Homo sapiens: one gene and its partner. The protein of the gene in region 2 purifies or fractionates together with the protein of the main gene of each other region. This does not show direct contact. Each region holds a gene or a part of one and is shown on either strand. Other genes may lie near its edges. The genes, in order: FXN and MX2.

Region 1 (3,822 bases), on a different chromosome or scaffold from region 2:
GGCAAAGCTTGGAGGTCAAGGTCATAGGATGAGTGTTCTTCCTTTTTTTTTTTTTTTCTGAGACGGAGTCTTGCTCTGTTGCCCAGGCTGGAATGCAGTGGCACAATCTAGGCTTATTGCAACCTCCGCCTCCCGGGTTCAAGTGATTCTCCTGCCTCAGCCTCCTGAGTAGCTGGGATTACAGGCGTGCACCTCCATGCCCAGCTAATTTTTGTGTTTTTAGGAGAGACAGGTTTCAGCATGTTGGTCAGGCTGGTCTCACTCCTGACCTCATGATCCACCCACCTTGGCCTCCCAAAGTGCTGGGATTACAGGCGTAAGCCACCGCACCTGGCCATGATGAGTGTTCTTTCTAAAGCCACCTGGCAGCCATGTCTCCCTCTAACTCCAGGTCACCCGTGAGCCCTTGGACCACAAGTCATGGTAGGCTTGCCTAGCTTGAGGCTTCAGATGTGTGTGCTCACTCACACAGTGCCTGCTCATGGGATGCATTTGAGGAAATATTAGATAGTTTCTGGGCCTGAAGTCTCAGGCCCAGTGGTCAGGAACCACTTGACCCAATCATTGCCTACCCCCTGGTAAGGACTGGCCTGGATGGCCAGCAGGGAGCCCAGCTTTCCTTCCCAGGTGTCCCCTTGTCACCCCCGGCCCTGTCAAACCACAGCACTTGAAGAGTGAATCAGGACCCATACCTCGCAGGGGAGGATGAACTGGCACCACCACTTTTGGCATCAAATGAGTTGATTATTGGCTGCCCCTTTGCCCAGCAATTCCATTCTGAGAAATTCACCTGAAAGGAACTTCTGTCCATGCACAAGAACAGTCACAGCAGCACCATCGTAACAACAGAACACTGCAATCAACCAAATGTCACCTAAAGGAACCTGGATAGTGTGATTTACAGTGTGATATATTTACCCAACCAGATACTATCCAGCAGTGAGAACAAATAAAGGACAACTGCATGCATCAATGCAGATGACGCACAAAAACAGTGTTGAACAAAAGGGGCAAGCCATAGCAGAACAGATACAGCAGAATACCTTGTATATAAGCAATACATGGATTGGGGGAGATACAGAGGAGGTCAAACTCTAAGAAAAGGAGGGTACGATGAACAGAATTCGGGCTGGCAGATTCCTCCAGGGAGGACAGGGCAGTGATGGGGTGAAGACAAGGGCCTCCAGAGGAACAAACAAATTCTATCTCTTAACCTGGTGTCAGGGATACAAGTATTTGTTATTTGTCTTAGTCTGGGATGTTATAACAAAATACCAGCCACTGGGTGGCTTATAAACAATAGAAATGTGTTTCTTAGAGTCCTGGAGGGTGGGAAATCCAAGATCAATGCACCAACAGCTTTGGTGTCTGGTGAGGGCCAGTTTCCTGGTTCATAGATGATGCCTTGTCACTGGGCTCCGTTGGGCTATTTTAGAAGGGCACTAATCCCAATCATATGGGCTCCACCCTCATACCTCATCACCTCCCAAGGGCCCCACCTCCTAATATCACTTTGGTGATTAGGTTTTAACATATGAATGGTGGGGTGACACAAACATGCAGACCATAGCATTTATTATTAGTTTATAAGCAGTATAAATATTTATTTATTTATTTATTTTTTTCTTTGAGATGCAGTCTCGCTCTGTCACCCAGGCTGGAGTGCAGTGGCACGATCTCGGATCACTGCAAGCTCTGCCTCCCGGGTTCACGCCATTCTCCTGCCTCAGCGTCCCGAGTAGTGGGGACTACAGGCACCCGTCACCACGCCCGGCTAATTTTTTGTATTTTTAGTAGAGATGGGGTTTCATCGTATTAGCCAGGATGGTCTCCATCTCCTGAACTCGTGATCCACCTGCCTCGGCCTCCCAAAGTGCTGGGATTACAGGCGTGAGCCACCGCGCCCGGCAGCGTATAAATATTTACATATCCTTTTCTATGTGTAAACTTGTGTAAATTGTCTGCAAGACAATAAAAATGATTTGAAAGTGAGTGAGGGTATAACCTGCTTGTTAGGCCTAAAGCCAAAAGGTCATAGGATCACAGGTGGTGGTCTTGTCCCTCTAGGAAAATGGACAGATGTCTAAAAGCTGCCCAAGGCATGCAGAAGTGGATGCCACAGGAGCTTATTGAGTCATTTAAGAGACAGCATGCTATGGTTTGAATGTTTGTCACCTCCGAAACTCATGTTGAAACTTAATTCCCGATGTGGCAGTATTGAGAGGTGGGGCCTTTAAGCGGTGACTGGGTCATGAAGGTTCTTCCCTCAATAATGGATTAATCCATTCATAGATTAATGGGTTATCATGGGAGTGAAACTAGTTAGGCTTTATAAGAAAAGAAAAAGACACCTGAGGTAGCACACTCAGCCCCTTACCATATGACGCCCGGTGCCGCCTCAATACTCTGCAAAGTCCCCACCAGCAAGAAGGGACTTGACTTTGGACTTCTCAGCCTCCAGAGCAGTAAGAAGAAAATTTTTTACCATATAAATTGCCCAGTTTCAGGTATTCTGTCACAAGCAACAGAAAATGGACTAAGAAACATCCAGTTATCTCCTTCTCGAAGCTGTCTCCGGTATTTAAGAGGAAACGTTAAAGACGCAGCCCCGTCACATCCCTCCATCAAATGGACTAAGACACATCCAGTTATCTCCTCCTCGAAGCTGTCTCCAGTATTTAAGAGGAAACGTTAAAGATGCAGCCCCTGTCACATCCCTCCATCAAAAAACATAGGCTGCCTCGTGGAATCAGAGTCCTTCCCAGCCTCCAGGTAGGTAAGGCTGGGGCTGGGGGCTGTGGGGCTGTGCTTTTAAAAGCCGTTTCTGTGGATTCTTGGTTCTGCTGAGTAGCCAGATCTGAGAACCAATGATCAGGTACTAAATATGCTGTCCCATGTGGTGGTCACCAGCCCCCGTGGCTACTGAGCACTAGAAATGTGGCTAATGGGACTGAGGACCTGGATTTTCAACTTCATTTAATTTTAATTATTTGAGGTGATAATAAAGTAATAAAGTTATTAGGAGCCTTTTTTTTTTTTTTGAGACGGAGTCTCGCTCTGTCGCCCAGGTTGGAAGGCAGTGGTGCGATCTCGGCTCACTGCAACCTCCACCACCTCCCGGGTTCAAGCAATTATCCTGCCTCAGCCTCCTGAGTAGCTGGGATTACAGGTGAGTGCCACCACATCCAGCTAATTTTTGTATTTTTAGTAGAGACGGGGTTTCACCATGTTGGCCAGGCTGGTCTCAAACTCCTGACCTCAGGTGATCCGCCCATCTCAGCCTCCCAAAGTGCTGGGATTACAGGTGTGAGCAACCACACCCAGCCTAGGAGACATTTAAGTGTGTTTGGAACAACTTGACTATGTGAACCTTCATTTTTAATTGTGAATTTTATAAAAGTAAATACAGATAGAGCATTTACTTAGAAATTGTGAATTGAGATATGCTGGAAGTATATGAGTACGAAAAGAGTATGCAAGATATCTTATTACTGATTTTTTTTGTATGTCACAGAATCCCCCAAAATCTTGGCTCACTGCAACCTCTGCCTCCTGGGCTCAAGTGATTCTCATGCCTCAGCCTCCCGAGTAGCTGGGACTACAGGCACCCACCACCATGCTGAGCTAGTTTTTAGTAGAGATGGGGTTTCACCATGTTGGCCAGGCTGGTCTTGAACTCCTGATCTCAGATGATCCACTCGCCTCGGCCTCCCAAAGTCCTGGGATTACAGTCGTGAGCCACCGTGCCTGGTCTCATTACTGATTTTTAAAATACTGATTACATGTTGGAATGATAATATTTTGTATGTACTAGGTTGAATA
Region 2 (3,822 bases):
ACGTAATCCTAACCACAATCTTGTGAGGCAGTAGTAGGATCCCCTGGAGAAGATGGGAAAGGCAAAATTCCGAGAAGGTGGCCCATATTGTAAGATCACATAGTCAGCAAGCCGTAGACCTACTCGGCCCAAATTCAGTTTTCCCATTAGCTCTCCTTCAAGCAGGAGTGACCTCTGTGCTCCTGGATCATTCAGGAACAACAAGTTCCAGAATGAAGGGGAAAAGTGCTCCATTCAATGGGAACAATCCCAGCGTCCTACAAACTACAGAGTCTCTATAGGATAATTTCTATTTAATAAAGCCAGTTATTATTAAGTTTCTATTTAATAAAAACAAGTGATATTCTGGCAAATGACTGTGGGCACTGGAGGCTCTAAAAACACGGAGAGTTCCATCGAGCAGGTTTTCCTGTGTGCCGTTTACGGTGGTACACACGGGTTTCTGGAAGTTAGGTGCTCTGTGTTCAGTCCTGTTCCCATTCACTATTTGTTTGACCTCATTATTCTTATCCATGGAAATGGGAGAAACTTCACCTGCCTTATGTATCTCTTAATATAAGGACTCAAATCAGAAAGGAAGTGAAAACATTTTGGGAAACCAAAGAGTTCTACGCTTTATGTCATGACACATTCCAGTTTTTAATCAGCACCATCATTGGAATCTAAGAAACAATAATTTGTCTAAATAAGCCAAGAAATCTAGCACAAAAATCAGGTGAGGCTAGGTTATACTACCTTGTGTAATTTGTGCATACACTTTGGTCATGATCTGGGCCAACTCTTGCAGATGGGCTGGCTTTCATGGAGTCTAATTCCAGAGCTTTCCTGAAGAGTCTCACCTGAAATATGGATGTGTTTGAAAGAATGTAATTTCTTTCTTGGTTGCCTCTGCCAAGCTCAGCCTGTTTGTGATCTCCTGCTGGCCCCGGCACTTCACAATCATGTAGCCCTTCTTGAGGGGGTACGTGAGGTTCCGCACCACATTCATGACGCTTTTCTCAGTGCCCCTGTCCATTAGATCTGGTTTGGTCAGGATACCTGTGAGATGGTTAAAGAAGGGAAATGGAAAGGTCAGTGATCCCCTCAAACAGGTTTGACTCCTACTGGACTATGGGCTCCTTTTTTGGCCAACAAGGTCTTCTGCAGTCTTGATCCTCCAGTGCCTCATTCCATCCTCATTCCCTCATTGCCCCTCTTCTTTGCATTTCTATTGGCTCGCTATCTCACCCTCTCACTCAGTTCATTCAGTGTCCTGGATAGTTGACTTAACAAATATTTCGTGGATGCCTACTGGGTGCCCAGCACTAAGGCAGCATGCATGGTTAGAATGGACTGGCTCCATGCACCATGTTTCCAAGAAATGCCTTGTTCCCTACTGAGGGGAGTCCCTCTCTAGTGTCTCCTGAACAGACTCACTCCGCTCCCTCTTGTGGGCACCTCCTCTGATCTCCTCCTTCCCACTTTCCTCTCCCCCTCCTCTGTCCCCACTCCTTCCTGCTTGCACTGGATTGAAAACTTTGAATTCCAAGTGCTCTTTTTTGTTTATGTTGCTTGAGTGTCAAATTGCCACTGCATTTCTTGTTTGTGTATGTTGAAAAGCACTTTTCTTTCTTCCTTCTTTCCTTCCTTCCTTCCTTCCTTCTTTCCTTGCTTCCTTCCTTCCTTTCTCTCTCTCTCTCTCTCTCTTTCTTTTTTGAGATGGAGTCTCGCTCTGTTGCCCAGGCTGGAGTGCAGTGGCTCACTTCAACCTCCGCCTCCCCGGTTCAAGCGATTCTCCTGCCTCAGCCTCCTGAGTAGCGGGGACTACAGGCATGTGCTACCACGCCCAGCTAATTTTTGTATTTTTAGTAGAGATGAGGTTTCACCATGTTGGCCAGGCTGGTCTCAAACTCCCGACCTCATGATCCACCCACCTCAGCCTCCCAAAGTGTTGGGATTACAGGCATGAGCCACCGTGCCTGGCCTTATCTTCCGCTATTTTGTCCTTCGTTTTAATTTGTGGGTAAGTCTGGCTATCTGGTCTACTATTCTTGAACCTCTCTTTCCAGATAAATTAATCTAGTAATATACGAGAAATAAAGAAGAATGGATATTGATAAGGGCTATGCAGAGAATTAACATAAAGTGACGTGCTGGCAAATGACCGTGGGCAGCGGTGCGTGATGTAGTCTCAAGTTGGGTGGACAGGGAGGTCCGCTCTCAGAAGGCAACATTTGGACTGACATCTGAAGGAAGGGAGGAGTCAGCCTAGTGGGGAGGGAGAAGGAGCACTCCAGACCCTGGTTGAGAGGGAGCAGGGATGGCAGAGCCGTATTGGAGGGTCATGAGCAAGGCAGAGAGCGGTGGAACTGAGATCAGAGAGGCAGGCAGGGCCAGGTCACCTGGGGCTCTGCTTTCTAGATAAAGGAGTCCGGGGTTTATATGCATGTGAGATGGCAGCAGGAGAGAATGTAAACAGAGAGGGGCATGACCCGATTGACATGTCTGGAGGCCAGTGGAGAGGGCACTGCCATGGGCAAGGTGAGTGCTCGAACAGCAGGAGAATGTTTGAGCAGACCAGGCAGGAGACCATGGTGGCTTGGTCTAGGCAGTGACAGTGGGGATGGAGAGCAGTGGATGGATTTGGCACCCGTTTTGGAGGCAGAGTCACCAGGACTTCAGATACATTAGACTTGGAGGCAAGGGGAGGGAGGACTCAAGTGGGACTCTTTGATTTGGCTTTAGAACTGGGTGGGCGGATGGGTTCTGTGAATGAGGTGGGGAAGCCTTGGAGAGGAGGTGAATCAGGATGGAGTACGAAACCAAGAGTTCTGTTCTGGTCACGTTTAACTGGAGACATTGGCCAGACAGCCAAACGGAGTTGTCCAGTTAAGCAAGGTCAGGGTTAGAGATACAGATTTGGGAGTCACTGGCATGTAGATGGGATTACAAACCACAGCCGGATAAGATCACTTAATGTGATGATGCGTTGATAGAAGGAGAGCCCAGAACCAAGTTTTCCATACTTAGAGGCCTGAGAATTGAAGAGGCATGGAGACAAGGAGTCTAAGAATGTGACTTCCAGCTGGCCAGTGACGGAAGCGACCCGAGAGAGAGAGAATGGTGGAGGAAGGAGGGAGTTTCAGGAAGGAGGGAGGTTCAGGAAGGAGGGAGTGGGCAACTGGGGTGACTGCTGCTGAGAAAGGAGAGGCAAGGACAGAGACGTGACCATGTGCTCCTCAGTGCAGAGGGTGTGGGTGACCTCGACAGGAGCAGTCTCTGTCTTAAGAGGGCACAGGAGCTCGGCTGAAGCCAAGGGAGTAGATAACATCCATAGCAATGGACAGGTGGGGAACCAGCTTAGTGAGGGCCTGAAAATATCGACCCACTGTTCTTTTTGAAACTTGATATTCTCTAAGCCACTGTTATATTATAATCAAATTTGCTCTATTCTCATCCTTTGGAAGTATTGTGTAGTCATTCAATTTTCTTTTTTTTTTCTTTTCTTTCTTTCTTTTTTTTTTTTTTTTTTTTTGCTTTTTTGAGACAGAATCTCACTCTGTCACCAGGCTGGAGTGCAGTGGTGCAATCTCGGCTCACTGCAAACTTCGTCTCAGGTTCAAGCGATTCTCGTGCCTCAGCCTCCCAAGTAGCTGGGATTACAGGCCTGTGCCACCACACCCGGCTAATTTTTTGTATTTTTAGTAGAGATGGGGTTTCACCGTGTTGGCCAGGGTGGTCTCGAACTCCTGACCTCAGGTGATCCGCCCGCCTTGGCCCCCCAAAGTGCTGGGATTGCAGGCATGAGTCAACATGCCCGGCCTCAATTTCCTTTTTAAAAGA

What was found.
Region 1: the proteins of MX2 (region 2) and FXN fractionate together in Homo sapiens (co-fractionation; one large-scale study listed by BioGRID). This does not show direct contact.

What each region holds. Positions count from the first base shown.
Region 1 is NC_000009.12:69,038,475-69,042,296, reverse strand, and holds part of FXN (frataxin, mitochondrial isoform 1 preproprotein), read right to left. Parts: intron 1-3,822.
Region 2 is NC_000021.9:41,392,803-41,396,624, reverse strand, and holds part of MX2 (interferon-induced GTP-binding protein Mx2), read right to left. Parts: intron 1,039-3,822; coding exon 840-1,038; intron 1-839.